2 linked regions of the Homo sapiens genome follow. The protein of the gene in region 2 purifies or fractionates together with the protein of the main gene of each other region. This does not show direct contact. Each region holds a gene or a part of one and is shown on either strand. Other genes may lie near its edges. The genes, in order: TTC33 and E2F8.

Region 1 (15,728 bases), on a different chromosome or scaffold from region 2:
ACCCTGGATGAATAAGAATACACACTCATCAAAGCCAGAAGGGAGATTCAGGACACCCTCTCACCAGAATCCTACTCCCAGCACAGCTCCACAGGATTGGGAAGAACCCTGCAGCTCCAAGCTACCCTCAAGGGAAAGAATGAATTGGTCTGAGTGTCCAATGCCCCAACTTCTACGGTGGCTACAAAAAGTACTGGTTTCTGTCTTGCCTGTTTTTTGGACCACTGTTAAAACAAGTCCTACATAATCTAACCACCTACAGGAGACCAGAGATAACGGAGGTTTGGAAGAGTAGTCACCCTATCTGTTCCCCCAGCTTGGCATACAGTGAGCGAAGAAAATTCCCAGCTCCCAGATTTTGCCTAGGGAAGAAAAGAATTGGTCCACACTGTGTCCAATGCCCCAGTTTTTATGGGGACTACCAAAAGGACTGGCTTCTGTCTTACCTGTAGTGGAGTACTGATGGAATTTGGCAAAATCCAGCTGCCTGGGGGCTAGGAAGAACAGAGAGGGATATTTGGGCTGGAAGTTGCTATCACCCCTTCCCTGAGCTGGGCACAAAGTAAATGGACAAAATCAATTTTAGAAGTAAGAACAAAACTAGGGGCATCATACTCATGAATTTCAAAATATATTACAAAGTGACAGCAAACAAAACAATACGATTCTGGCATAAAGTCAGATATATAGACCAATGGAACAGAATAGACAGCCTACAAATAAATCCACACCCAACATGGTCAGCTGATCTTCAACAAGGGCATTAAGTATACATAATGAGAAAAGTCTAGTTTCTTCAACAAATGATGCTGGGAAAACCGGATATCCGCGTGCAAAAGAATGAAAATGGATCCTCATCTTACACCATAAACAAAAGTCAACTCCAAGTGCATTAAAGACTTAAATGTAAGACCTGAAGCTTACATTGTAGGAGTCTTATGACTCCTACAAAAAAAACAAAAACAAAACAAAACAAAACAAAAAAACAGGGAAAACCTTCATGACATTGGTCTTAAAAATGATTTCCTGAATATAACACCAAAAACATAGGCAACAAAATCAAAAATAGGCAAGTGAGATTACATCAAATTAAAAGGCTTCTGCACAACAAAGGAAACAACCACCAGAGTAAAAGGAAACCTATGGAATGGGAGAAAATATTTGCAAATCATATCTAAGGTTTTAACTTTCAAATATATAAGAAATAACTCAATAGCCAAAAAACCTAGTAACCTGATCTTAAAATGGGCTAAACACTTGAATAGACATTTCTCTAAATGGCTAACAGGTATATGAAAAGATGCTCAATATCACTAATCAGGGAAATGCAAATCAAAACCACCATGAAATATCACCTCATGAGTCCCAGCTACTCGGGAGGTGAGGCAGGAGAACCGCTTAAACCCGGGAGGCGGAGGTTGCAGTGAGCCGAGATCGCACCATGTCACTCCAGCCTGGGTGACAGAGGGAGACTCTGTCTCAACTCGCTCACTCAGTGCTCAATGTTGCCCAGGCGTGATCTCGGCTCGCTGCAACCTCCACCTCCCAGCCGCCTGCCTTGGCCTCCCAAAGTGCCGAGATTGCATCCTCTGCCCGGCCGCCACCCCGTCTAGGAAGTGAGGAGCGTCTCTGCCTGGCCGCCCATCGTCTGGGATGTGAGGAGCCCCTCTGCCCGGCCGCCCAGTCTGGGAAGTGAGGAGCGCCTCTTCCCGGCCGTCATCCAGTCTAGGAAGTGAGGAGCCTCTCTGCCTGGCGGCCCATCGTCTGGGATGTGGGGAGCGCCTCTGCCCCACCTCCCCGTCTGGAATGTGAGGAGCGCCTCTGCCTGGCCGCGACCCCGTCTGGGAACTGAGGAGCGTCTCTGACCGGCCGCCCCGTCTGAGAAGTGAGGAGCCCCTCCGCCCAGCAGCTGCCCCGTCTGGGAAGTGAGGCGTGTCTCCGCCCCACAGCCGCCCAGTCTGGGAAGTGAGGAGCGTCTCCGCCCGGCCAGCGCCCCGTCCGGGAGGTGGCGGGGCAGCCCCTGCCCGGCCAGACGCCCCGTCCCGGAGGTGGCGGGGCAGCCCCCGCCCAGCCAGCCGCCCATCCGGGAGGTGGGGGGCGCAGCCCCCACCCGGCCAGCTGCCCCGTCCGGGAGGTGGGGGGCGCCTCCGCCCGGCTGCCCCATCTGGGAAGTGAGGAGCCCCTCTGCCCAGCCGCCACCCCATCTGGGAGGTGTACCCAACAGCTCATTGAGAGCGGGCCATGATGACGATGGCGGTTTTGTCAAATAGAAAAGGGGGAAATGTGGGGAAAAGGAGAGATCGGATTGTTACTGTGTCTGGGTAGAAAGAAGTAGACATGGGAGACTCCATTTTGTTCTGTACTAAGAAAAATTCTTCTGCCTTGGGATGCTGTTAATCTATAACCTTACCCCCAACCCCGTGCTCTCTGAAACATGTGCTGTGTCCACTCAGGGTTAAATGGATTAAGGGCGGTGCAAGATGTGCTTTGTTAAACAGATGCTTGAAGGCAGCATGCTCCTTAAGAGTCATCACCACTCCCTAATCTCAAGTACCCAGGGACACAAACACTGTGGAAGGCCGCAGGGTCCTCTGCCTAGGAAAACCAGAGAACTTTGTTCACATGTTTATCTGCTGACCTTCCCTCCACTATTGTCCTATGACCCTGCCAAATCCCCTTCTCCGAGAAACACCCAAGAATGATCAATAAATACTAAAAAAATTTAAAAAAATTTCAATTAAAAACCTCAAAGCATAGGTTTAACAATTAAATAAAAGCTAACTCAAATTAAAAAAAAAAAAAAAAGAAATATCACCTCACATCTGTTAAAATGGGTATTATCACACACACAAAAAAGGTGGCCAGATGCGGTGACTCACACCTATAATCCCAGCACTGTGGGAGGCCATGGTGGGCGGATCACCTGAGACCAGGAGTTCAAGACCAGCCTGGCCAACATGGCAAAACCCTGTCTCTACTAAAAATACAAAAATTAGCCAGGCGTGGTGATGGGCACCTGTAATCCCAGCTACTTGGGAGGCTGAGGCAGGAGAATCACTCGAACCCGGGAGGCAGAGGTTACAGTGAGCCGAGATCACACCACTGCACTCCAGCCTGGGCGACAGAGCAAGATTCCCTCTCAAAAAAAAACAAACAAACAAAAAGGCAAGATGTGTCAGTGAGGTTATGGAGAAACTGGAACCCTTGTATATTGTTAGTAAAAATGCAAAATGGTGTAGCCATTATGGAGTTTCTTCAAAAAATTAAAATTAGAACTACCATGTAATAAAGCTATCTCATTTCTGGATATTTATCCAAAAGAATCAAGATCTCAAAGAGATATTAGCACTCCCAGGTTCATGGCAGCACTATTCACGATAGCCAATATGTAGAAACAACCTAAATGTCCATCAAAGGAAGAATGAACAAAGCAAATGGTATACACACAAAATGAAATATTTTTCAGCTTCAAAAAAGAAGCAAATTCTACAATACACAACATGGATGGGACTTTGAGGACATTATGCTAAGTGAAAGAAGCCAGTCACAGAAAGCAAATTCTGCATAATTCCACTTATACGATATCTCTAAAACAGGCAAATTCATAGACTCAAAAAGTAAAATTGTGAGGCAAGGCACAGTGGCTCACGCCTGTAATCCCGGAACATTGGGAGGCTGAGGCAGGAGGATCATGAGGTCAGGAGTTCAAGACCAGCCTGGCCAACACGGTGAAACCCTGTCTCTACTAAAATTACAAAAATTAGCCAGACATGGTGGCACACGCCTATAGTCCCAGCTACTTGGGAGGCTGAGGAACGAGAATGGCTTGAACCCGGGAGGTGGAGGTTGAAGTGAGCCGAGATCACACCAGTGCACTCCAGCCTGGGGAACAGAGCGAGACTCCATCTCAAAAAAACAAAAAACAAACAAACAAAAAAAAACAGAACAATAATAAAGCTCATAAACAAACTTTATTTTTCAAGAAAAAAACTCAATTCTTAAGTGTCAACATACAACATTTATAAAGACTATAATTCAAGAATTTGTACTATTCAATTATAAAAAAGATAATGCAGCTTGACTCAAACAATGTCTACAGTAATTAACTAAACTAAAAATTTACAAGTGGATTTTTTTTTTTTTTTTTGAGATGGAGTCTCACTCTGTCACTCATGCTGGAGTGCAGTGGTGCGATCTCAGCTCACTGCAACCTCCACCTGCCAGGTTCAAGATATTCTCCTGCCTCCTGAGTAGCTGGAACTACAGGCACACACCACCATGCCTGGCTAATTTTTGTATTTTTAGTAGAGACGACGTTTCACCATGTTGGCCAGGCTGGTCTCAAAACTCCTGACCTCAGGTGATCAACCCACCTCAGCCTCCCAACATGCTGGGATTACAGGCATGAGCCACCATGCCCAGCCAAATTTTTTTTTTTTTTTTTTGTAAATATAGGATCTTGCCATGCTACCCAGGTTGGTCCAAACTCCTGGCCTCAAGCAATCCTTCTGCCTCAGCCTCCCAAAGTGCTGAGATTATACGCGTGAGCCAGGATGCCCAGCCCCTCAAGTGAAATTTTAAAAACTCTCAATCATCTTCCTTTTGTCTGGAAATTATCACTTGTCCATCCCATTACTACCATTACAAAAGCGAAACAATAAAAAGAATCAAATGATGCAACTGAAATTTCTAATTAAAGATTTGCTCATGCAAAATATTAAAACCAATGGCTAAAATGAGACTTGGAAAACAGAGAAAACATTAGTAAACAAAATTAGTATTTATTGCACATTGGCATGAAGAAAAGCAAAAGCTGGCAATGAATTACACAGAGCCCGAAGAAGGGAAGCCACAAAGCTAGTTCCAGCACTGAAGGCTGAGAACCCTGGAAAGCCAACAGAAGAATCCTTCCTGATACTGTTACCTCCTGGTATTCATTACCTTTCCCAGTCTCCTTCCCTCTCTACCTTCTTCTTCAGGATAAATCCCTTATGTATTCCTTTCTCACCATCCCCATTCCCTCATACAGAATTTTTAACTCCCAGAACCATTCTCTTCAGCTTTTTTTTTTTTTTTTTTTTGAGACAGGTCTTGCTCTGTCACCCAGGCTGGAGTGCAGTGGCGCGATCTCAGCTCACTGCAAGCTCCGCCTCCCAGGTTCACGCCATTCTCCTGCCTCAGCCTCCCGAGCAGCTGGGACTACAGGCGCCCGCCACCACGTCCAGCTAATTTTTTGTATTTTTAGTAGAGACGGGGTTTCACCGTGTTAGCCAGGATGGTCTCAATCTCCTGACCTTGTGATCCGCCCGCCTCGGCCTCCCAAAGTGCTGGGATTACAGACTTGAGCCACCGCGCCTGGCTTCAGCTTTCTTATTCTCTCATCCTTCCACTTCTTAAAATCTCATTCTCATAAAGTCTTTTATATATATATATATATACACACACACACACGTATATATATATAAAATGTATACCATATACATACATATTTTATATATATATATCTCCTATAAACATTTTCCAATGTTCACATCCAACTCTTACAAAGTTTAAATAATTATTCATGGAGATATACCCAACTACTGACTTTTAATTTACTGCCTGTGCTATTTACATACATAATTTCCTATGGTTTTAGTCCATATGTATATATAGTAAGAATTGTTAGATATTAGAAATTCTAGCTTGCTTTCAATATATTTTACATAGTGTCCCTTCGTTATGACATTTTGAGTCATCTTTTTTTTTTACCATTCTAGTCTTTTAAGAGAACAGCTTAAATCTACATAAAAACAGAGAAGATTCCTAAAAATTACATTTAAATGGCAAAAAAAAAATACTTTCAATTCTTCTAAGAATTTCACAGTATTAATGAATAGAGCCATATCAACAGAAAAAAAAAAAGTCGAACTGGTACTCTTATTCAAAAAAATTTAAATATTAAATTATTTTTATTGGATGATTCAAAGTATCTCCGTCTCACCTGCAGTGTATTTTCTTTCTTTATAAAGGACAATCTTTACTAAATATTATGTCCTAGAGATTTGTTCCATTACCATAGACACTATTGGCAAAAGAGATAGTGATGTATAAATTTTTAATAAGGGAGGCAAGGAAAAAGTATTATATGATAGGGTTTTCTTCCCCTGTTAATGTTAGAAAACTAAATTCTTTGAACTCTTTTTTCCAACTCTGGTATGATTTAAGTCTTCATGTAAAAAGAGAGAAGTTGACAGTGCTAAATGGCAAGAAAAAAACAGTACTTGGTTAAAATGGTTTCTATCACTGTGAATCTCATTTAGATTATCATTAACTTACTTTAATCAAATCAATTATTTTCTCATACAAATTCCTTACTATTTCTGAGAATTTGACAAACACCTTTTTTGGTAAGTAGAAATAATGATACATTTATAAGAATGCCAGAAAAAAAGCTCAGTCATCCACAATTTACTAAAACCACTGTTAGTAAGTTTATATTTTGAATTTATCAGTAATTTTAGTCTTGCAAGAAACTTTTAAAATGTTTTATTTTGAACTGTAAAAAATAAAACCATTTTTAAAATCTTAATTTACTTAATAACAAGGAGGAAATTTGGCACTGTATATTAGATTTGCAAACACTTGTTAGGAAGTTAAATTTCGTTAGCTATCAGGTGTATATAGCCCTGCCAAAAGAAAAACAACAGGACAGCTGTCACAGCTAATTCTTACCTAGATAGCCTCTGCTACTAACAAGGTATAGTCCAGACAAATTGAGAGATGCATTAGGTACCAGTTTACGGTAAACATTACACAATGAGTATTTCATTTGCACACATTTCTACTCTTCCTCTTTATCCCCTCAATAAGCCTAACAACTTTTCAGTCTAAATGTTCATCACCATTACCCTCCCATATTCTACTGTCTTCCTTCCCCTGTATAATCTATCAGCGGTTTTGTCTCCACAGTGATACTAATACCACTTTATAATGTGGTAAATGTAATGATCCAAAGAACTAAGCCAAAAAGTTGCCTATTGTCTATTTAAATAAGGTTTACCAAATGCCAATGTTTTATGTTAAATTTTTTTTAATATCCATGATGTCAAGTAACTGAAAAATATTCTGATCATGATATAATTAGTGTCTATAATAAAAAAGATGTTCAGTAATACCTGTGAACTGTGTTTATGGATTAATACCTTTAAGAAGTAATTTGCTAATTGTTTTTTGTATAGACTTGATAAACGGCTATTCACTTTTGGGTTCAGTTAATCAAAAATATGTCAAAATAGACTGGGCATGTTGGCTCACGCCTGTAATCCCAGCACTTTGGGAGGCCGAGGCTGGAGAATCATTTGAGGTCAAAAGTTAAAGACCAGCCTGACTAACATGGTGACACCCCGTCTCTACTAAAAATACAAAAACATTAGCCAGGCATGGTGGCGCATGCCTATAGTCCCAGCTACACAGGAGGCTGAGACAGGAGAATCGCTTGAACCCAGGAGGCGGAGGTTGCCGTGAGCTGAGATTGCACCACTGCACTGTACCCTGGGTGACATCAAGACTCCATCTCAAAAAAAAAAAAAAGTCAAAATATACTTAAAATTTCTGCATTATAATAATCTGACTTCCTCACCAGGATTATCTCTCCTAAACCAAGTTGAGCACGTCCCAAAGTCTGCCAAGACTCCCATGAATGTGGATTTTGCTGGACGGCCATTTCTGCTGCATGTACTGCTGGGAACATTTCATGAAGAGACATTAGCACCTATAGGCAAAAAAAGACCAAAAAATCTGTCAGTAATATTCATAAACTAGCAACTACATAAAAAACCCTTTTCATTTTTTAAGATATATTTTTAGTCCAGTAAAAATAGCATTTCGGTGATTTTTACCCCTTACTCTGCCATTCAGGGTAAGAAATTATAGTTCTCTTTTCACCCCTTATATAACTATGAAAATGTAAACGATTCCCTTTCCAGTTATTGAATCTTATGTCCATCTGGTCAAAACCAAGTGGTCATATCCTAACTATGGTGGCTCAGAGGTATTTTGAACTCCCAATTCCACTTCCATTTATTCTATTTACAATGTGGTTTTCAGGGAACCCCAGGTATTGCCATTAAACTAGGTGAATTAATTTGTTCAACCAGCCATCCCGTCCCTAATGAACATCTTTATGTTATAAAAAGTATTTAAAACATTCCCTAGGCCTTCTCACTACTGGGCATTTCAAACCATACATACTAGGAAGGTAGGGTTAGGGTTAGGGTTAGGGTTAGGGAGAGTTAGGGTTACCAGAGAGTTCTAGTACCCTCCACTGTGGTCTGTGGGAAGAGGCTGGATTTTATCTATAATCTTTAGGACCATTAACACTTTAAAAGATTTGTGATACAAACATTATTATCAGGTTCCAAATTAAACAAGTCTTCATAAAGCTTGCCACAAACCTGTCATTCATATATACATATTTAAGATTGAAAAAGGAATACAAATGAAGGTCCTCATATCACTTGATTCAGATGACATAATTTATTTGGGTTTTTCCTGGATAAACTAAAGTCAAAGGTGACAAATGTGTGTCCTATATTTGAGATCACGATTTGAAAAATATTTGTTAGGTGTGCAGATTAAGGCTGAATTGCAACAATTCCCTGCCAAAAATATGTTTAATGCTCTGTGTGAGACTTTTAAAATCACTTGGATAACCTATTCAAGTGCTCAAAGGTTTTCTTTACAGACTTTCCTACAAAATATTAGAAACATGTTTTTAAAGTACAAATGTTATTTTTAAGCTATTAATAAAATTGCATCTATGCTGACCTTTTGCTAAGGACTAAGCCATTTTTAGAAATATCTCATCTAGAACCCAATCCATCCTCATTTTTAAGAAAACTGAACTATTTTGCTAAGTCTACTATATTTAATCACAAGGAAAGCGTATGTTTTTCATCTAAGAGCTCAACAGTGACTTTTTATTTATTTTTTATTTACTTATTTATTTTTTTGAGATGGAGTCTCGCTGTGTCACCCAGGCTGGAGTGCAGTGGCACTATCTCAGCTCACTGCAACCTCCGCCTCCCACGTTCAAGTGGTCCTCCTGCCTCAGCCTCTCAAGTAGCTGGGACTACAGGCATGTGCCACCACGCCCAGCTAATATTTGTATTTTTAGTAGAGGCAAGGTTTCACCATGTTGGTCAGGGTGGTCTCGAACTTCTGACCTCAAGTGATCCACCCACCTCGGCCTCCCAAATTGCTGGGATTACAGACGTGAGCCATGGCACCTGCCCACCAGTGACTTTAAAAGATAGCCACCGATTCCTATCTTACAATAGTTAGGCTAAAATAACAGTTAACTTCATTGTAAAGGCAAATGAATTTCCAGTTTTATGCATAAGACAGAACCATAAATAATGGTGAAATATTTTTTCCCAAAGAAACCGTATTTGTAAAAGAAAATGGGAGAAAATGCTATTTTGCTTCATCATTGCTCACTCACCGAACAAACATAGCACAATTTCATAAGGAAAGTGAAATTCTTCATAATTATTACCTGTGATTTCATCTCGTATAGGGTAGCATCATTTGGAGTTAACTGTAGTGCTTCATCCCACTTCTGAATTGCCTCCCGATATCTGTGGTTGTTAAAGTTATATCAATGCCATATTTTCAATATGCTTTTTTGGACTTTCAAAAAAAAATTTTTATTGTAGTAAAATATAAAATTTACCATCTTAACCATTTAAGTGTACAGTTCAGAGGCATTAAGTAGCATTAAGTACATATAGTTCATTCACCTTTGTGTGCAACCACCACCACCATTCATCTCCAGAACTTTTTCATCTTCCCAAACTGAAACTCCATACCCATTAAACAATAACTCCTCATTGCCCCCTCCTCCACCCCCGGGCAAACACCATTCTACTCTTAGACTGCTTTCAGGAGGAGCAGTCATGTACTTTCAGTTCAACAGTTTTTTGGACTACTTTCTAGTCCATGAAATATATGTAAAAATCCAAAATAAAGGATTAGCAAATTAAGTCCAGCAACTTACTAAAGTACAAAATCCACATGATCATGTAGTGTATGCTCAGAAAAACTTAGAAATGGGTTCATATGTAACAGATAAGGGAGAAAAAAGTACATGCCACTAAACAATACTTAGTATAATTTAACACCCATTTCTGATTATTTATAATAATAATAAAAGTATATACAACATTAAATAAATTTAGTACTGTGGTGCCATCATCTACTAAGCTTTAATGATATAACCTCTAAAAGCAGTAACTATATCACCTAAAAAGAAAGTACTTGCACTTCTTTAGGCATATTGTGGGTGATTTCAAGCCTCTCTAAACAATATTTCCAAATGTTATTGTAGATGTGACAGGAAAAACTTTGGAAATTAATTTATTGATGTATTCCTTCATAACAATCCTTCCACTCACAATTTTCTAACAAAGGTAGCAGTAATAAATTCTGCAAGACTTAATAGTAGCAAATGTCTTTCCTCCAGCATTAGAAGGAAAAGGTTGGACTGTTTGTCCAATCTTTTTTCTACCACTCCCTACACATACCTGTGCTCCACTCAGCAGGGTTTTTATAGTCCCTACCCACATATCATGCCTTTGTTAGTATGGATCCCCTGCTACACATACACACACACACATCTGTATTAGTTCACTCTCACGCTGCAATAAAGAACTGCCCAAGACTAGGAAATTTATAAAGGAAAGAGGTTTAATTGACTCAGTACCACAGGGCTGGGGAGGCCTCAGGAAACTTACAAGGATGGCAGAAGGGGAAGCAAACACATCCTTCTTCACATGGAGGCACGAGAGAGAAATGAGCGCTGAGCAAACAGGGAAGCCCCTTATAAATCCATAAGATCTCGTGAGAACTCAGTGTCATGAGACCAGCATGGCAGAAACTGCCGCCATAATTCAATTATCTCCACCTGGTCCCATCCTTGACACGGGGATTATTACAATTCAAGGTGAGATTTGGGTGGGGACACAGAGCCAAACCATATCACATATCTAAGATTGCCTTCCTACTCCTCTTCATCTATTCAAAGGCTCCTCCTCTAAGACCAAGTTAAAATGCTCCGTTCTTCATGAAGACCTCCTCCAGTGGCTCTAGCCCACTAACTATGAGTACCACTTCAGACCACATAGCAACACTTATATTTCCAAAGCATTTTATGTTTTACAAAGCACTTTCAATACAATTATTTAACATACAATTATTTTCCCAAAAAGTTAATTCACTTACTACTCAAAGTAAGTGAATATAAATTTGGTGTTATTTGCTTTTTTAAAAATTATTTTGAGAGACAGAGTCTTGCTCCGTTGCACTGGCATGATCACAGCTCATTGCAGCCTTGAACTCTTGGGCTCAAGGGCCTCCCACCTCAGCCTACTGAGTAGCTAGGACTACAGGCATATGCCACTATGGCCAGCTAATTTTTTTATTTTTTTATTTTTGTAGAGACAGGGTCTCACTATGTTGCTCAGGCTGGTCTCAAACTTCTGGCCTCAAGCAATCCTCCTGCCTTGGCCTCCACAAGTGCTGAGATTACAGGGGTGAGCCACCATGCCTAGCCTCAAGTTTGGCATTACTTGTTCTCACTTTATTGATGAGGAACCAATGGTTGAGAGCAGCTAAAGGACTGTCCAAGTCCTGCAAAAGACAGGATTTAAAGCTAGCTCTTAAAAATACAAGACCAATACTTTCTGTAACTATATCAAGTATGCCTCCCATTTAGTTCTGCTCTAATTCCTCCTTGTATTTTTGTCTTCTCTTCTCTAATGAGTTCAGGAACCAAAGGGTAGATTTGTTTATATGCTCTACAGTACCCAGAACATTTCTGGGAATGTAGAAGGTACTAATATAACAGATTTTTTTTTAGACAGTCTTGCTCTGTCACCCAGGCTGGAGTACATGGAGTACAGTGGCATGATCTCAGCTCACTGCAACCTCCACCTCCCAGGTTCAAGCGATTCTCCTGCCTCAGCCCCCCGAGTGGCTGGGACTACAGGCACATGCCACCACACCTGGCTAATTTTTGTTTTTTCGTAGAGATGGGGTTTCACCATGTTGGCCAGGCTGGTCTTGAACTCTTGACCTCAACTGATCTGCCCGCCTCGGCCTCCCAAAGTGCTGGGATTATAGGCATGAGCCACCGCGCCCGGCCTAATATAACAGATTCTATCTACCTCATTTGTCCTACCTTCTCCAAGTCCTGAAGGCAGCAGAGAGCAGCATATAAAGCAAGAAAAGAGGGGACAGATGTAGCATGCTCTTAACACACAGGAAAAAAAAATGGTAATAAAAACAAATTCTATCCTAAGACAAAAGTGGTAAAAATGTAAATTCTTACTTTGTTCCGTTCATTATTTCATATATAGAAATTATAAGAAATCCCAAGACTAGGGGAATGTGAATATAGGTAGAAAAAAACAAAAACATGAGAATTCTACGTTTAGCAGAGGGACCTTAAGAACCTGGATGTTTGAGGTTTCAGGAGTCTTTGACAGCTTTTGAGGAAGGGGCTGAAGGTCTTTGGTCTCTAGAGCAAGGGGTGGCATAGTAAAGGTCCATATAGTAAACATTTTAGGTTTTGTGAACCATACAGTCTATCACAACTATTCAACTCTATTACTGTATCCCAAAATAAGCCATAAACAATGCATTCAAAAAATGGGCATTGCTGTGTCCCAGTAAAACTTTATTTATAAAAACAGGTTGTTTTTATAAATAAAGTTTGCCAACCCTAGATCTACTTGGCCCAACCACTGTTAAAAGCTTATCATATTTGTCAAATTTACTTTTTACTTCCAGTCCTATTTTCTGCCCAACTCAACCAGAGGAAGTTATCACCCCATAGAAGGCATTTGTGGTCATCACTGTGACTTGGAGGAACTAGTGGCAGAGGGTCAGGGATGTTAACATTCTTCAAGGCAAAGAGCAAGCCTGCACAATAAAGAGCTGTCTTGCTGAAAATACCACTAGCACTACTGCTGAGAACAGGATGGCTTATCCCGTCCCCAACCCCACAAAGCTGCTTATGTTCCTAAGCTTAAGTTGTCCCAAGTACGAAATAAACTAAGAGGTTCAAGGTGACAATGACCATCACTAGTTTTTTCTTTTTATTAGGCAGGTATGCATGTGTGCATATACATACAAACAGACATACACACACACACGTGTAAACACAGGCTTACAGATTTGAGAAAAAAGAAAAATGTCCTCTCTTCTCAACTGCACTGTCTTTTATTTTGAAAGCATAACCATTGCTGCCAGCAGAGGCATCCCTCAATGAAATGTGCTTTGTTGCCAACGAGGCCTATAAAGGTTTAAAGGAACAAGTGAGCTGTTTTCCATGCTAAACAAAGCAAGAAATGGTGGGTATTTACTTCACTATCATCAACTTATTCAATTCTTCCCCCTTCTCATTTCTCTTTGGTTTACTTCTGTTGGCCTGCAAACAAAGGGTGGCACCACTTAGTTCCTCCATTTTTAGATCACAGGAAACTTGGCACTGAACAAATCAATAGTCTCTCATAATTTCTGCAGCATATCTCTTAATTCAACTTCAGTTTGGAACAGACTGAACAGACACAGCCCTACTGCAGCTGTTGGATAGGAAGCATTAAAAGATAAAAACTTGGTTTAAAGTCACTGTGGTTAATAAATGACCAAAGTCTGATTCCGCCAGTTTAAGGACAATCTTAACAGTATGCAACTGAAGTAGCACAAGGAAGGAAGCAAAGGGAATAGTTCCATGGACTACAACAGGGCAGGATGAGATAATGCCCTATACTGAGGTAAAGAACAGCTGGTGATCAAGCTAAATAAGTTAGATAGCACACTCATTTACCAAATAGAAATGTCAATGTGTTTAGCTACTTTACTCCCAATTAGACTTCTAATTTACTGTGGCTTTAAATTTAATGAGCTATATAGTTAACAGCTTATTCACTTTATAAATATTTACTGGGCACCTACCCTGGGACAGGTAGAATTCTAGTAATAAGTACTAAGGATGCAGCACCCAACAAGATATAAAAGGTCCCTACTATTCTTCCAGATCTTACTTTCTAAAGTGTATGCATGTTAGAAGGGGACAGGGAAAGAAAGATAACAAACAGTTAAAATATAAGTGCCGTGATAAAAGACAAATGGAGGAATGTGATAGGGAGTGACCAAGTGGCTATTCGGAATGGGCGGTCAAGAAAGGTCTTCCTAGGAACGCATTCAAGCTGAGACCTGAGTGACAAAACGTGGTCAGACAACTGAAAATCTGGAGAAGGTCCATTCCAGGCAAAGGGAAGAACCTGGGGCAGGACCAAACCATGTTTTGTGGAAAGGAAATAAAACCAGAGGAAAGGAAGTCAGAGGTCAGGGAGGTGGGCCGAAGCCATGATCACAGAGAATACAATAAGCCATAGTTATGCATGTGGATTTAATTGTATGTGTGATGAAGAATCCACAGAGTTTTTATACAACAGTGAGACATGAATTATTGATTTACATTTTTAAAAGATCAGTCAGACCCAGAAGAATAGACAGTAAGGGTACAAAAATGTACACAGGAAGGCTAGATATGAGACAACCAAAGTAATTTAGGTATGAGATAACCCTAGATAAGGATAGAAGTGAAAACAGAAAGAGGAAAAAAGATTTACAACACACTGAAAATGTACAGTTGGCTCAACTTGGACTTGGTATGAGTGAAAAAAAGAAAGAAATCCAGGATAATTTGGGTTACCTGGAAAACAGAGCCTGAGGCCAAAGCTTACTGGCTAAATCTTTATTGAGTGGATAGGATCCCACGCAATCAAGAGTGAGGGAAAAACAGAAGTAAGCCATGAAGAAAGAAGAATAAATACAAGGTCTATGTTAAGCTGGCAACAGCTCCACAAACACAGATGATTGTTGATCTGGAGAGCAAAAGGAAAGGAGCAAGCAAAGATTAAAAAGGAGAGGACATGGAGACAAGGACAAGCATGATAGCATGGTGGTGTGGAAGATGAGAGAGCAGTGTATTTAGGAAGACTGTGGTCACCTGTGCTGAATGATGAGAAGCACAATAAATGACAACAGAGAAGTGATGACTGGATTTGACAACATGGAGGTCACTGATAACCTTTACAAAAGCAGTTTCAGTGGATTCATGGGGACAGAAATATGACTGGATGGTTCATCAAGAAATGGAGTTTGTAGTGCAGTGGGAGCAGAGAAATGGCAGAGCATTTGGAGAGAAGCTTTTTAAATGGATGTTATCAGGGTATGTTTGCATGCCAGCAAGAAGGACCGAGAGAAAAGAAGAAACAGATTATATAAAAATGAGAGGACAATTTCAGAACAACGTTCCTGAGAAGGCACAAGGGGATGGGGTCTAGAGTACAAGTGGAGTGGTGGGCCTTTGATAATTACAATGGAATGATGACAGATCATATAGGCACAAATACAGTAAGGTTGGAAGATGTGCTGGTGAGAAAATAAAGTCATTCTACACTGACTGTATCTATGTTTTTCCACAGAGCATGAGGCAAAACCACTGTCATTAAATATACTGATGTGAGTAATCTGCAGAATGTGGGTCACACAGCAAGATCACCCTCAAATTTACATTAGTAGGTATACTTTCCTAGACAAGAACAAAATGCATGGTAAATTCTAATTTATATTCCTGCTTCATACACATACAACTGATTCTAACAGAAAAATCAGAC
Region 2 (15,690 bases):
GTCTTACATTTAAATCTTTAATCCAACTTGAGTTAATTTTTATATATCTTGAAAGGCAGGGATTCAGTTTCATCCTTCTGCATATGGCTATCCAGCTATCCCAGCACCATTTATTGAATAGGGAGTCCTTTCCTCATTGCTTATTTTTGTCAACTTTGTTAAAGATTAGATGCCTGTAGGTGTGTGGCTTTACTTCTGGGTTCTCTATTCTGTTCTATTGGTCTATGTGTATGTTTTTGTACCAGTATCATGCTGTTTGGGTTACTGTAGCTTTATAACATAGTTTGAAGTTGGGTAATGTGATGTCTCTGGCTTTGTTCTTTTTTCTTAAGATCGCTTTGGCTATTTGGGGTCTTTATTGGTTCTGTATGAATTGTAGAATTTTTTTCCAATTCTGTGAAAAATGATGTTGGTAGTTTGATATGAATATCATTGAATCTGTAGATTGCTTGGGGCAGTATGGCCATTTTAATGATACTTATTCTTCCAAGTCATGAACATGGAATGTTTTCATTTGTTTGTGTCATCTCTGATTTCTTGAGCAGTGTTTTGTAGTTCTCCTTATAGGGATTCTTTCACCTCCTTGGTTAGATGTATTCCTAGGGGTGTGTGTGTGTGTCTATTGTAAATGGGATTGAGTTCTTTATTTCGCTCTCAGCTTGAATGCTATTGGTATATAGAAATGCTACTGATTTTTGTACATTGATTTTGTATCCTAAAACTTTACTGTTTACAGTTCCAGGAGCCTTTTGGCAGAGTCTTTAGGGTTTTCTAGGTATAGAATCATATAGTCCACGAAGAGATGGTTTGAGTTATTATTTTCCTATTCAGATGCCTTTTATTTCTTTCTCTTGCCTGATTGTTCTGGCGAGCACTTCTAGTACTATGTTGAATAGGAGTGGTGAGAGTGGGCATGGCATCCTTGTCTTGTTCCAGTTCTCAAGAAGAATGCTTCCAGTTTTCATGATGTTGGCTATGGGTTTGTCATAGATGGCTCTTATTATTTTTATGTATGTTCCTTCGAGGCCTAGCTTCTTGATGGTTTTTATCATGAAGGGATGTTGGATTTATCAAAAGCTTTTTCTGTGTCTATTGAGATAATCACATGACTTTTGCTTTTAATTCTTCGTATGTGGTGAGTCACATTTATTGATTTGTATATGTTGAACCAATCTTGCATCCCAGGAATGAAGTCTACTTGTTCATGGTGAATCAACTTTTTGCTGTGCTGTTGAATTCAGTTTGCTAGTATTTTGTTGAGAATTTTTGCATCTATGTTCATCAGGGATATTTGCCTGTAGTTCTCTTTTTTTGTTGTATCTTTACCAGGTTTTGGTATCAGAGTGATGCTGGCTTTGTAGAATGAGTTAGGGAAGAGTCCCTCCACCTTGATTTTAGGAATAGTTTCAGTAGAACTGGTACCAACTCTTCTTTGTATGTCTGGTAGAATTAGGCTGTGAATCCATCTGGTCCAGGATTTTTATGATTGGTAGGATTTTTTATTACTAATTCAATTTTGGAACTAAATATTGATCTGGTCAGTGTTTCAATTCCTTCCTGATTCAACCTTGGGAGACTGTGTATTTCCAGGAATTTATCCATTTCCTGTAGATTTTCTAGTTTGTGTGCATAGAGGTATATTCACAGTAGTCTCTGAGGATCTTTTGTATTTATGTGAGATCAGGCATAGCGTCACCTTTGTTGTTTCTGATTGTGCTTATTTGGATCTTCTTTCTTTGTTAATCTAGCTAGTGGTCTACTGATCTTGTTTATCCTTTCAAATAACCAACTTGGTTTTTGTTAATTCTTTGTATGGATTTGGGGCCTCAATTTCATTCAGTTCCACTTTGATTTTAATTATTTCTCTTCTTCTGCTAACTTTGAGATTCATTTGTTCTTATTTTTCTGGTTCTTCTAGGTGTGACATTAGATCATTAATTTGAGATCTTTCTAACTTTTTGAGGTAGGCACTCAGTGCTGTAACCTTTCTTCTTAACAGTGCTTTTGCTGCAACCCAGAGATTTTGGTATGTTGTATCTCTGTTTTCATGTATTTCCAAGAGATTTTTAAATTTCTGCCATAATTTCGTTGTTTACCCAAAACTCATTCAGGACTAAGTCGTTTAATTTCCATGTTATTGTGTGGTTTCTGAAAGATCATCTTGGTATTGATTTTTATTTTTATTCTGCTGTGGCTGAGAGTATGGCTGGTATGGTTTTGATTTTTTTTTTTTTAATTTATGGAGACTCGCTTTATGGCCGAGCATATAATCAATCATGGACTATGTTCCATGTTAGCACTATCGTAAAAGAGTATATAGAACTATATATTTTGCGGGCAAACTCAAATGCAATTCATTAATAACTATAACCACACGTGGATTAATATACTCTAGTCAATTTCCATATTGATAACTGTTGTGAGCTTTTATTAAGCTTTTTTTTTTTTTTTTTGAGATGGAGTCTCACTCTGTCGCCCAGGCTGGAGTGCAGTGGCACAATCTTGGCTCACTGCAACCTCTGCCTCCCAGGTTCACACCATTCTCCTGCCTCAGCCTCCCAAGTAGCTGGGACTACAGGCACCCACCACCACGCCCTGCTAATTTTTTGTGTTTTTAGTGGAGACGGGGTTTCACCGTGTTAGCCAGGATGGTCTCAATCTCCTGACCTCGTGATCTGCCCACCTCTGCTTCCCAAAGTGCTGGGATTACAGGCGTGAGCCACTACACCCAGTCTAAACATTTTTGATTAAGGCTTAGAGGAGAGCTATCTAATTCTTTTGGAAAATAAGTTGTTTTGTCAACAAAATTAATCTGTGTAGGTCCTATTCTGTCTCTGTATTGTACAATAAAGCAGTTCAATGAGCAATAAAACTCTACCATAATATATCTGGATATCATGAAGCATATTAGGTCAAATCATATCCTGAAAACCGTAACTTTAAGGGGTATTCATTAGTGCCAAGAAGTTGGAAGAAATCAGGCAGATTTCAGATTTCAGGGAGGAGTGGATTATTAGAATGTTTGGTGACTGTTTAGAACCTTATATGGGGGATGCCCCCAGCCTGACACAGCTGATCAAGAGCCTGCTCTGTCTTCTCAGTGCCTGAATTCACAATGACTGAGGGCCACTGAGGTGTAAGGAACCCACTTATGCCAACTTCAGTATCATTCCAAGAGAAACAGGGCATCCTCCCGTGACTAAGAGGCCACAATCTTGAAGAACTCAGAGAAGCAGACAATTTGTCCAGATGCAGTCCACATCTCTGCAGAAGAGGGAGAAAGAGAGAGGGGGAGTGGGAGTAAGTGAAGAGTTGGCTTTGTTGCTGGGATCCCAAGGGCAGCCAACATGTCCTGTAGCTGGTGCCTAGCTGAGTCCCTAGGCTTGGAGCAAGTGATCCATACATATGGGATGAAAGGAGAAGAGAAGAAAACTTGGGTTCCTAGGGAAGAAAAATATCTACAGAAACTTTTAAAAAGTACTATAGAGATAGAACATTTATTTTTAAAAAAAAAATAAAAAAGGCATATTTGTTGAATTGAGGAATGGCGAGAAATCTCACACAGGAAAAAAAAAATACAATAAAAGCTAACACTTTGCACCAGACACTTTCTACTGCTTGAATATAAACTCCAAAAGGGCAAGGACTTTATCTCTTTCACTCACTGTGTATACCTAGCACCTAATTCAGGGTTTAGGGGCATAGTATAGCACTCAGTATACTATTTTTCAGTGAGTAAATAAATAAAACCGAAGAACCTAGCTAAAGTAAAAAACCTGACATTTAAAAGGGAGTGGTAATTACGAGCTCATTTTCCTAGCATTATGGAACACCAAGTGTGTGCCAGGCATTGAACTCAGTACTGAAGATAAAGAGATTAAAAGACAAGGTATCATCTGAGGTTGGTGGGATAACATTCCAGAGTAGAATTTTACTCCATCAACCAACACCTATCAAGCCCCTGCTCTGGGTCCGGCACTTTGCTGGGCACTGGAAAGACCAAGAGATGAAGAAGTCCCTCTCCCTGCCTTAAGGAGCGCACAGTGGTGTAGGTGGGAAGCATCCATAACAGAGGTGCCTATATAGGGGTATGATCAAGAACAGGATGTGAATAAATCTGCCTGGAGGGGATCAGCACAGTTACCTTTCACTACCAGCTTTAAGCAAAGAGCAGCAATCATTGATTGATCAGGAAGGTTATAGGATTCCTGCATTGAATGGGACTTTTGTTTTTTTTTTTTTTTTAAGACAGAGTCTTGCTTAATGGCCCATGCTGGAGTGCAGTGGTGCAATCTTGGCTCACTGCAACCTCCACCACCCGGGTTCAAGCAATTCTCCTGCCTCAGCCTCCCAAGTAGCCGGAATTACAGGCCCCACCAGCACGCCCAGCTAATTTTTGTATTTTTAGTACAGACGGTGTTTCACCATGTGGCCAGGCTGGTCTCAAACTCTTGACCTCAAGTGATCCACCCGCCTTGGCCTCCCAAAGGGCTGGGATTATAAGCATGAGCCACAGCGCCTGGCTCCAGTAGGACTATATTTTAGGTAATAAATTCCTGAACCCTACTCCTAGGAATCTCTACATATACTTCTTTAATGTCCTAGAACCTGGAAAAGCAGGTTTTTCCAACCCACTGATAAGCACTGGATTACATGACATTATGACAATTTTAAGATTCCATGCGCAATAATAAAATGAGAACAGAACTCAGACTCCAGCTTCGCATGAGGACTCTCAGAAAAATTTGTGTTCTATTATCCCCAAAGTATTTTTAAAATTTAGAAGCTGGCTGGGCGCAGTGGCTCATGCCTGTAATCCTAGCACTTTGGGAGGCTGAGGTGGCCAGATCATGAGGTCAGGAGTTCGCGACCAGCCTGGCCAATATGGTGAAACCCCATCTCTACTAAAAATACAAAAATTAGCTGGGCGTGGTGGCGCGCACCTGTAGTCCCAGTTACTTGAGAGACTGAGGCAGGAGAATTGCTTGAACCCAGGAGGCAGAGGTTGCAGTGAGCCGAGATCACACCACTGCACTCCAGCCTGGGTGACAGAACAAGACTCTGTCTCAAAAAAAAACAACAAAAAAAGAAATTAGAAGCAGTAATTGCTCAATAAATGGCAGCAACTGTTGCTGCTGCAGCTGAGTCCAGGGCTGCAAATGTCTATATGGGGCTCATCAGGATACATCAGGGCCTATCAGGAATTTCCCACAGGAGGTCACAGGAGAGTCTGAAGGGATTTCACACACAGCCCTGCTGCTGCCTGGGACTTACTCTGACCTAGTCTAGCTCCACAGTCAGCACAAGCCAGCTCCAGGCATGCCCACTTCCTGGGTCCCTTGCTTGTATCCATCCTCTTTAACCCTGCCCAGACTAGACCCAGCATGATTCATTTGTAGGCTTAGTACAAGGACCAGGAATAGCTGAGATCTAGCTGTGAGCAGCCACAATCCAACCCAGCACATAGGGATTTGTGCAGTTTTAAGCTCCAGAGAGCTGTTTCGTGGTATCTATGCCAACACGTACTGCAGATAAAGCACAAACCCAAATTGCCCCACTAGGTCAGGAAGCAGAGTTGGTGATATAAGCACCTAGGAGGTGGGGCAGCAAGACAGACAGAAAAGGTCAAGAAACCCATTAGCTAGAACTCCTTCCTTAGCCCTTCATCCTTCCCTGCTCAGCAGGGGAAGGTCTTGCCTGTCTTTTTGGTGATGATGAAAAGGGACACGCTTCAGAAATCCCAAATGTTACCTTTGAATGTAGGCGCCCCGGTGATGCCTATCTTTCCTCCTTACCTTTGATATCTTTTTTCATAATACTTTATTTAATGCTGAACGTGTTACACAACGTATCAGCCCTCCAAGTTGTGCAATCCAGAAGGGCGACAGCACAGAGTAGAAAAACTGGTCTAACTTCAGTGAGACACAGATTACACAACATGATGAACAAAAGACCAGAAACAAATACACAAATATTCCCTTGGATTATGTAACTAATAAGTGGAAAACATATTTGATGGGAAAATTAAAAAAAAAAAAAAGTTTCAAGCTTATGCCCTGATCCTTCCTTCTTGGTTATGCAGTAAACATAAAAGTTTTCAGTAGTCTTTTCCCTCCTTTACACTCATGCTGCATTTCAAATTGATACTCTACACAGTGATGAGTAGAACCTTTCTTTCTTTATTACCTTTCATTACATGAAAGTGTTGTTAAGACTTCAAAACTGTATCACTTCACTCTTAATAAAACCACTTTTCAACATATTCAATGAGTTTGACTATAATTTCACTTCCTTCAGTAAGACATGACAACTATCAGTAAGCAAGAATTACACTCTCACCTTCCTGTTTTTTTGTGTGTTTAGGGAGGGGTTGAAATGGTTAAGGGCTAGCCTGAGTTGGCACTAACATTGCTCTCACAGGAACTTTCAGAGGCAGTGGAATGGGATGTATGAACTTGGAGCAGGTAGACCTGGATTCTAATTCTGGCTCTGTAGCTAACTTGGCCATCAGTTTAACCCTTTTGTGCCTCAGTTTTCTTCTCTATAAAATGGGACACAACTATCCTATGAAGCAAGTAAGGATGAGCACGCCGCACAGTGGTGAACACAGCTTTCAGTGGAAAGCCCTGAGACGTTAAACACCCTTGGCTTCAAATCCCAGTCCTGTCCCTTACAGTTAGACCTTGGGTTTGTCACTTTAAAATGCTGCTTCCCTCTCAGAGTCATAACCCATGCTTTCACACCTGTGCTGAGTATGAAATGAGAGGCCATCTGTCAAGTGTCACCAGAGGTGGCTGCTCCCTGCATGATGTGCCTTACAGGTAACTGTCACTCAGACATCTGCAGCATGAATGGCCCTGTAGATCACAGATTTGAACGAATTAGTCACTATCTCTGAACACAGGTGCATGAGGCAGACTGCTTCTAAAGAACTTTAAAAGGGATTTATGGCCCACAGGACTCCGGGGCTGTAATAACTTCGGGTACATTAGGCATAGCTGAATCTATGCACTCTTGGGAGCGCTGACCATTCAGGGGGTTGGGGGAGATGACAATCTGGCCAACAGCTAGTGGCTAAAGCAGAAGCACCAACTCCCCACTTTTTGTTGATACATTTAGAACCCAGTCTTGCTCCAAAAAAGGGGTACCTGGGCTTAGTAAGAACCAGCCGCTCAGTGCTAGCAACGGTGGAACCCTATATAGTGACCTCTGCTTTATTTCAAATCTGCGAGCCACAGGCAGTGGCCCCTCTGCACAGTACCTGAAAGGCCTGCTTTCAGGTCGAAGCGCCTTCTTGAGCAAGACCTGCACCTCAGCTGGCGACGAAAGGGGGACAGGGACACGACGGCGCCAACATTCCAGGGCGGCCACACCGCAAGCCTGCGGTCGCGTTCCGCGGGGAGATGAGCCTTCGCTCGCCACGGAGACCCCTGGCCCTATGGCCGGCAGCTGCTGCGCTGCGACCCCAGCCTCAATATCATAGCATCCCCGCCCTCATCGCGTTTCGCAGAAAATAAAAATGCCTCGCCCTGCTAGTCAGCAATGGGAGAGTCACTGATCCCCAAGTTAGCGGTGGGAGTGGGGAAGTGTGGCCCCGGGCCCTGCTGGAGCCTAAAGACACGCGATTACAGAGGAGGACGAGCCAAACCGAGTCCAGATCGAGAGACCGGCGCCCAGATCTCGGCGCGGTTGGGCAACACTCAGCACCAGTCCGCAGAAAAGTCTAAGGCAGAGGAGAGCAAAGGGAGCCAACGCGGGCGCAAATGATCCAGGTGCAGCCGAGGCAGCGCCGCCGCCCCGGGCCTCGGTGTCCCGTTCTGCAAAGTGAGGACGAAGGATCGAAGTGTCTCCCCGACCCTGCTAGGGCTCTACAGGGAACCAGGCTAAAGCTGCCTGAGGCTCGGAGACCGGAAAAAGAGGGAAAGACAACAGGGAAGAGAAAGGGAGGAGTGGGTGGGAGACCCTGAGGAAAGACGGCGAGGACAGGGTTGGAGGGTTTTCCGCCTTCCTCCTCTTCCTCCTACACCTGAGTTCTCACCGCTGGGCCAAGGCCCAGAGCCCACGGAGCTTAGGCACCAGTAGCCAAGCTTCTCCCTCCTCGCGCCAGTTTCTGCGAGGCACGGGGCAGACGGTGGGCAGCACAATCATGCATGCCAGGGGTGCAAGGGGGAGAGGTCCGGCTGGAGTCCGAGGGCAGGTGAGCCGGCCTGGGGCTGGGCAGGGGTGAGATAGCCCCAAGCGGGGAATCGCAGGGCGCCTGCGGCCCAGCCCGCGAGCCCCGGACGGGCCAAATTTTATTCCCCAACTTTGAGCAAGGGGAGGGGGTGTATGCAAAAAAAAAAAAAAAGGAAAAAAAAGTTGCTGAACTTTTCCCCCAACTCTGCCGTAGAGGCGGGAGTGGAGGGCGGTGCCTGCACCGATTCGCCGGCGGCTACGGTCGGGAGGCTCGGATTGGCGCTCGGGGGCCGGGGCCGGGGCGAGCGGGCGTGGGGGAGGGGAGCGGCCCTCCCCGCCCGCGGTATCGGCTCGCGCCGGGAGCGGGTTAATTTCAAATCGGGGGCTTGGCTGCTCCTGGACGGTCACGCTCCCTCTGCCCGCCAGCCGGCCCGCCAGTCCCGGTCCCGGCGTCTCTCTCCGGCACCCACCTCGGCGCTGCGGAAAGACTGACTGCCAGGTACGCGGGCTCCCGGGCCTGAGAGGGGCAGCGGTGCTGACGAGTCCCGGCTCAGCCCCCGCCGGCTCCCGCCGTGAGGTGGACTGACAGGTCAGCGGGACGCAGAGGGGCGCGGCGCCCGGGCGACACGGCACCGGGAGAGGGCTCGGGAGGGTGGCGGCGGCGGCGGCGGCGGCCGTTTCCCGCCTCCCGCTTCGCCGGGGGCCGTGAGGGAGGAGCTGAGCTCCCGCGCAGAGGGGCGGGGGCGAACGAGGGGGAGGGGCGGGGTTGCCGTGGTTCCGGGCGCGGGTTTGCCCGCGCTCAGGCCCCGCGCAGCTAAGGGGAGGCGCCGGCCACGGTCCGACTTTCCGCGCCAAATTTTTAAATCGAAGGCGGAAGGTCCGGCCCCGCCCCTGGCGCCGTCGGCCAATCGCAGGCCCGCTTCCGGCCCTCTGATTGGTCGGGAATTGTTGTCCTGGAAACCACGATGATGCTGTCCGGGAACTGTCGGGACTGCGGCGGGCGGACAGGGCCTGGGGGAGGGGCCTTTGGCCGAAAGTTGGGGGAAGTGCACTGAGCGAGTGGCGGCCGGGGGACAGTACCTGCTTGCCTTATTGGGCAAATACAGCCTTCCAAGGTGGAGTCTAACGCCGTGGTGTGAACTGGCCACCCGAACAGGGAGTAAATAGTGCTTTGTATCTTTAAGGAAGCCCTTTTTTAAATTTAAAAAAAAAGTCTTAATTATAAGACTCTTTAAATGCCCAACTGCATACTTGGAGCTTTGGGACTGAATTTGGAACTTTCCTGTCAAGCGACCTCCCACGACTTTACTGCTGAGCCTGTGCACGTGTGTGTAAGGGGAGAAATCCAGGCATCTAGATGCAGACTTGTACCCAGTTACTTGGGGTCGCGTGCGCTCAGCTGGGACCTGGGCTCGTGCGCTTAGTCCGGAGCCCTGATCTGCGAACAGGTGGGTGCTTCCTAAAGTATTCGCTGGGGTCCGGAGAATGGCTCGCCTTTTCTACAGATGGGAGAGGGCTGTCACTAGAAATTCCGTGGGTTGCTTGAAGTCTTAGGACCGCCGATCCGTTTGCTGAAGGAATTTACTGGCATTTGTTGGCGTTCTCCGCTCAGTGGGGCGATCTCTGGTCGAGAATAAAATGTAAATCTAGTTTGTCATTTTTCGTTAGGCTTTGTTTCCGTAGCCTCTTGTCCGTGAAGGAATTTTCAACAGATCTTTTGGTTCTTGTTTTTCTCTAACTTTTTCTATTTCCTTTTTTCTTTAAGGATATTAAAACTTTTAGTACAATTGATTGGACTACTTGAACCATCGGGATTTGGGGAGGAACTCCAGATTTTTCATTTTTAAACTCTAAATGTATGAGGAATTTACAGAATGGAGAACGAAAAGGTACTTTATAACTTCAGTATTCATCATTGCAATTTTAAATTCAGTATCATCCTGATTTAACTCCATAATTTTTCCCTATCCAATGTGTTTTCTTAATGCCACAACCTTGGTTAGCCTCTGTAAAGACCTGGAAAAAATGAACCTTATCTTATAGTTTCAAAAATATATAGTTTAAAATATATACTAATTTAATTAATATAGTTTAAAAAATGAAAATTATCTTAAAAAGAAATTCAGTCTCCAATCATGTCAAATGCCCTTTCTGAATTCCAGTTGTTCAAGAATCCTCAGAAATGTTGTAATGAAACTAACAAATTTTATTATTCTTAAAAATACCTTTTCTCTCTTTATGTCTGAGACAGCTACCAAATCATTAAAAACTAGAAAGAGTGTAAAGGGGCAAACCTACCCCTCTTCAAAAATTCGTTAGTTTCATTACAACATTTCTGAGGATTCTTGAACAACTTGGAATTCAGAAAGGGCATTTGACATGTTTGGAGACTGAATTTCTTTTTAAGATAATTTTTTACCAAATTGGCAGCTTATTTATGGGGTCTGCAAAATGCTCTGTTTAGGGGGCAAACATTTTGTAAAATTACAAAAGAATTGTCTGTGGGGGGTGTCCAACTACTAATAGGTTTAAAAAAGTGAACTTACATGCATATTTCCTAATAGTTTTAGATGTTAGTCAAATAAGAGAATTACTATTGCTTCTGATAATCTGAGGCAAAGAAAAAGCCTATTGTCAGATCAGTACATCTCAGATGCACACACTGGCAAGGAGCTCCTGTTGGGTCCACCATACTGACTTCCATGTAAGAAGAGCACCATACTTGGAGTGAAAATATCTGTGTTCCACTCCTACGTGACCTCTCTCAGCCTGCATCTTCTCTTCTGCGAGCTAAGAATGCAGGATTCCATGAACATACAAACGGAAATGCACTTGATAAACCCAAGATGTCACAACATGTCCCATTTGTCCATGTTCTTAAAGTTATTTGGTCTGCCTATTATTTTACTTATTGCTGTTCCAAGCATTTTCTTTAAAATAGATAAAGATGGGAGTAGTGTGTGAAGTCCCTGGTGTCCAAAACTGGAAGGAACATAGTCTCCATTAGCCTTATTTATGAACTGCTGTTAATTTACCCTTTTGTCTCAGTGGCTATCCTGCTTCTGCCAGGATCTAGCTTTGTGGTCTTAGGTAGCTGTTAGGTTGATGCAAACATAATTGCTGTTTTTGCCATTACTTTCAGTAGCAAAAGCCACAATTACTTTTGCACCAACCTAATCATTTTACTTCTCTGGGCCCCATTTTCTCTATCTGTAAAATGAGGGAGTGGATGTTCAAAGAGCAGACTTTTCTGGTCAGAAATCCTGCTGTTGGACACTCTAGATTTCCCTGATAAATCTGACCATATGCTATCCCTCACTCTTGTCTCCTTGTCTCTCTGACTCTTCAGTGGTATTTTATTTAGCACCCACTGCATGCAGCCATTATGCTAGGTGGATAAGAATTTCTGCCCTGTAGGCCTTTACTTATTACAGTGCCATGAGTAAACAAAAGTCATTTCTAGAAGTTTGATCATTTAACATTGTCAGTCCAATTAGGGGAAGCTGAGTGAAGGGCATTTGGGAACTCTATACTGTCTTTGCTTCTCTTCTCTAAATCTAAAACTATTTCAAAATACAATTAAAATTATAAGTCCTAACTAAAGTTGTTTTTTCAGTGGTTGAAACATAAGGTGAAAACATTTATGGCTTATTGCAAAATTAAAAATGGGAAATGTAATTATTAGAATTGACAATACACATCACATGACCATTAGAATACAGTTATTAATTTCCTCAACTCTACAATCTCATTAGACATTTTTTCCTTGGCATGATTCTATTCGTTATGCAATTTCTAGAATCCAAGCTGTCTGATAAATCCTGTTTTACCATGGATTTAATTATTTACATTTTTTAAACCAGGAAAATCTCTTTTGTGAGCCACATAAAAGGGGACTAATGAAAACACCTCTGAAAGAATCCACCACAGCAAATATCGTGTTGGCAGAGATCCAGCCTGACTTTGGCCCTTTAACCACACCTACCAAGCCCAAGGAAGGCTCTCAGGGAGAGCCGTGGACACCGACAGCCAACCTGAAAATGCTCATCAGTGCTGTGAGCCCTGAGATCCGCAACAGAGATCAGAAAAGGGGTTTGTTTGACAACAGAAGTGGATTACCTGAGGCCAAAGACTGTATACACGTAGGTTTTCAGAGGACTGGTTGGAGGCTGGGGAATTTGTTGGGGGGAGGGGGGAGGTTGTAGCTATTAGAGAAGTGCCAGCAATTTAAAGCATCACCACCCGAAGGCTGTTATTAACTTCCTTCGGAGCACCAGAAAGGTTTGGACCCCAAGAAATATAGCTCTGGGAATTCTGAACCTTTGCGTTATTTTCGTTTCAGGCTTTCCTTTCAGGTTTGCCAAGCATTTTGTACTGGCCCCCCTAACCTTTTCTCCCATCCAGACTTTGCAGCTGTTGAAGCTAAGCGTGTGTAAGTTGGTGTCAGTCATCGAGCACAGATGCCCCTAATAAATCTGTCAGACTTTATTTTAGAATAAGACATTGTTTACCTTTTCCTTTGTAGGAACACTTATCTGGAGATGAATTTGAGAAATCCCAACCAAGTCGAAAAGAGAAAAGTTTAGGATTATTGTGTCATAAGTTCTTAGCACGATATCCTAATTATCCCAACCCTGCTGTGAATAATGACATCTGCCTTGACGAAGTGGCAGAGGAACTTAGTAAGTATGCAAAGAACTCACTGAAAGAATTAATAATTAAAGTGGCTTTATGGACTTAACTCCTTCAGACCCCCGCTCATCTAGCCAGTGTTTGTAAATGACACAAATAAGCCGGCATGGAAATTTTCTATCTCTAAAGCCCTCTTCTAATATAAGAATGAAGGTAAGTAGTTGCAAATTTCAGCAAATCTTGGAGGCAGAAAAGTCACAATGGAGGTTGCTTCTGACTACAGTTGTCTCTGAAGCTTTAAAGAAAGGCAATATTGTCTCATGACTTGTTTCACAAAGTTACAACTGTGAACTTTTGCTTCATTGCTCTCCCTTGCTGTTCTTGAAGAATCAGGCTGATAAATGGTTATCTTCCTAGTTGACGCTGAGGATCAGCTTCTGTGAGTGGGAACAGGACCTGTGCACTCCTGGACCTTCAGCACTATTCTGAGGACTAGTTTTCTGAATGTTTTGTGTTGGGCACAAGTTATTCCTCCTGCCCCTTTTTACTCTGTTCAAAGACCTGAATCTATTTGGAGCTAAAAAGGGGCCCGTGGTGAATTTGGGGTACCTTTGGAGTCATGTGGGTATCTTAATTTAAACCTGTGAAGTGATGTGCTGTGCAAGATAATACATTTTAATACAAAGCAATCACCCCGTGAAGAAAAGTTGCCCTTCTAATACATGTTTGTAAATATCAACTTTATTTCACATTTTAAGAATATACCGTTTAGATTCATCTACTTTTCATATATGCTTAATGGTAGCTGGGTAGGATATTCAGCAAATATCTATTAATCTTCTACTACTATGTGTCAGGCAATGTTGTAGGAGCCTGGGATACATCCGTAAACAAAAAGGGCAAAATCTCTTCTCTCTTAGAACCTATATTCTAGTGGGGCAATAGATACTGAGTAAAGGATATAGGAAGTAAGTAAGGATAATACATGCTAGAAGGTAACATGCATAGTGGAAAAAATAAATTGTAGATCAGGATCAAGGGATCAGGAGTGCTGGGGAGGTGCTTTGCCATAAGTGGTCAGATCAGGCTTCGTTGAGAAGGTGACATCTGGGCAAGGACTTGAAAGAAGCAAGGTAGGGAGCTGTAAGGACATCAGGGAGAAGGGTTCCAGGCAGAAGGAACAGCCGGTACAAAGCAAGTGCATATCTGGCAGGTTCCAGGGACAGCAAGAGGTCGGTAGGATGCACCCTTATTAAAATAGTGTTTTATTGATCACTTTTCCAGAAAGGCTGATCTCATCAAATATTTAAATTGAAATTAAGTTTCTTGAACGAAGAGAATTCTAACATTACAGAATATTGAAAACCCAATTTAAATAGATAGAGTCACAGAATTACTAATATCATATTGTTAATGATAGCTAGAAAGTAAGCAAAATTAGACCCAAAAAGGCATATTTTATTTTTATGTAAGTTTTTAAAAACTACATCATGGTTTTTGTACTTTTCTGAAATCTCAGCATTTTGTTTCTATCTTATGATCATTACAGATGGGCGTGTGTGTACGTGTTTGTATTGGAAGCGGTTGGAAGGTGTGAGATGTAGAGTTTTAAAGACTTGGTTTGCTACTTGCTAGCTCTTTTGGGGTGAGCTACTTAGCTGGTCTGAGCCTCTGTTTTCTCATCGTTTTTTTTTTTTGTTTGTTTGTTTGTTTTTGAGACGGAGTCTCGCTCTTTCGCCCAGGCTGGAGTGCTGTGGCGCGATCTAGGCTCACTGCAAGCTCCGCCTCCCGGGTTCACACCATTCTCCTGCCTCAGCCTCCTGAGTAGCTGGGACTACAGGCACCCGCCACCACACCCGGCTAATTTTTTTGTATTTTTAGTAGAGACTGGGTTTCACCATGTTAGCCAGGATGGTCTCCATCTCCTGACCTCGTGATCCGCCCTCCTCGGCCTCCCAAGGTGCTGGGATTACAGGTGTGAGCCACCGCACCCGGCCTTTCTCATCCTTTTTAAAGTGCAGATCATAATACCTACTTCACAAGTTTAGGGTGAAAACTTCCTAAAGCTGTGTAGCACAACTTAGGCCCTCATTAAATGTTGCCTTTCTAATTCATATGATTTGTGCCCTTGGAAAGCAAGCACATGTCTTTCTCACCTTCACAGTATTTGTTGAGTATGTTCACTTACAGTTAGGAAAGTGATATTATCCAAGACCTACTGACTAATAAACCAATGGAAGAAAAAGCTATTCAATTCTAAACACGTTACAAAAATCTGTAACACACAATTGCACATTCTTTGTAGATGTTGAACGTCGACGCATTTACGATATCGTGAACGTCCTAGAGAGTTTACATATGGTGAGCCGCCTCGCCAAAAACAGGTACACTTGGCACGGGCGACACAATCTCAACAAAACCCTTGGCACCTTGAAGAGCATCGGGGAGGAGAATAAGTACGCCGAGCAGATTATGATGATCAAAAAGAAAGAATATGAGCAAGAGTTTGACTTTATTAAGAGTTACAGTATAGAGGATCATATCATCAAATCAAACACTGGCCCAAATGGACACCCAGACATGTGTTTTGTGGAACTCCCTGGAGTGGAATTTCGGGCAGGTGAGAGATGGTAGTGAAAACTCCAGGCGGCATGGCATTTGTCCTCTGTCTAAGGAAAAGGTTCTGTGGAGAACACAGCTCTAAAGCTACTGCTGCCTTTAATGTTCAGATGCCACAGTTGTCAGCTGTATGATCAGGTGGTAGTATTTTTAGCCTTGTTACTTTAGAAGTCACTTGTCCCTTTATGAATTTTAATTCTCTAATCCTCATCCTTCTCTAAAGCTTCTGTAAACAGCCGCAAAGACAAGTCTTTAAGGGTAATG

Evidence for each region.
Region 1: the proteins of E2F8 (region 2) and TTC33 purify together in Homo sapiens (affinity purification with mass spectrometry; 2 studies listed by BioGRID and IntAct, with this or other methods). This does not show direct contact.

What each region holds. Positions count from the first base shown.
Region 1 is NC_000005.10:40,720,724-40,736,451, forward strand, and holds part of TTC33 (tetratricopeptide repeat protein 33), read right to left. Parts: intron 9,621-15,728; coding exon 9,539-9,620; intron 7,754-9,538; coding exon 7,622-7,753; intron 1-7,621.
Region 2 is NC_000011.10:19,234,481-19,250,170, reverse strand, and holds the start of E2F8 (transcription factor E2F8), read left to right. Parts: upstream 1-9,225; 5' UTR 9,226-9,623; intron 9,624-9,940; 5' UTR 9,941-10,049; coding exon 10,050-10,064; intron 10,065-12,038; coding exon 12,039-12,317; intron 12,318-12,700; coding exon 12,701-12,857; intron 12,858-15,112; coding exon 15,113-15,427; intron 15,428-15,649; coding exon 15,650-15,690. UniProt on the Homo sapiens protein: Atypical E2F transcription factor that participates in various processes such as angiogenesis and polyploidization of specialized cells.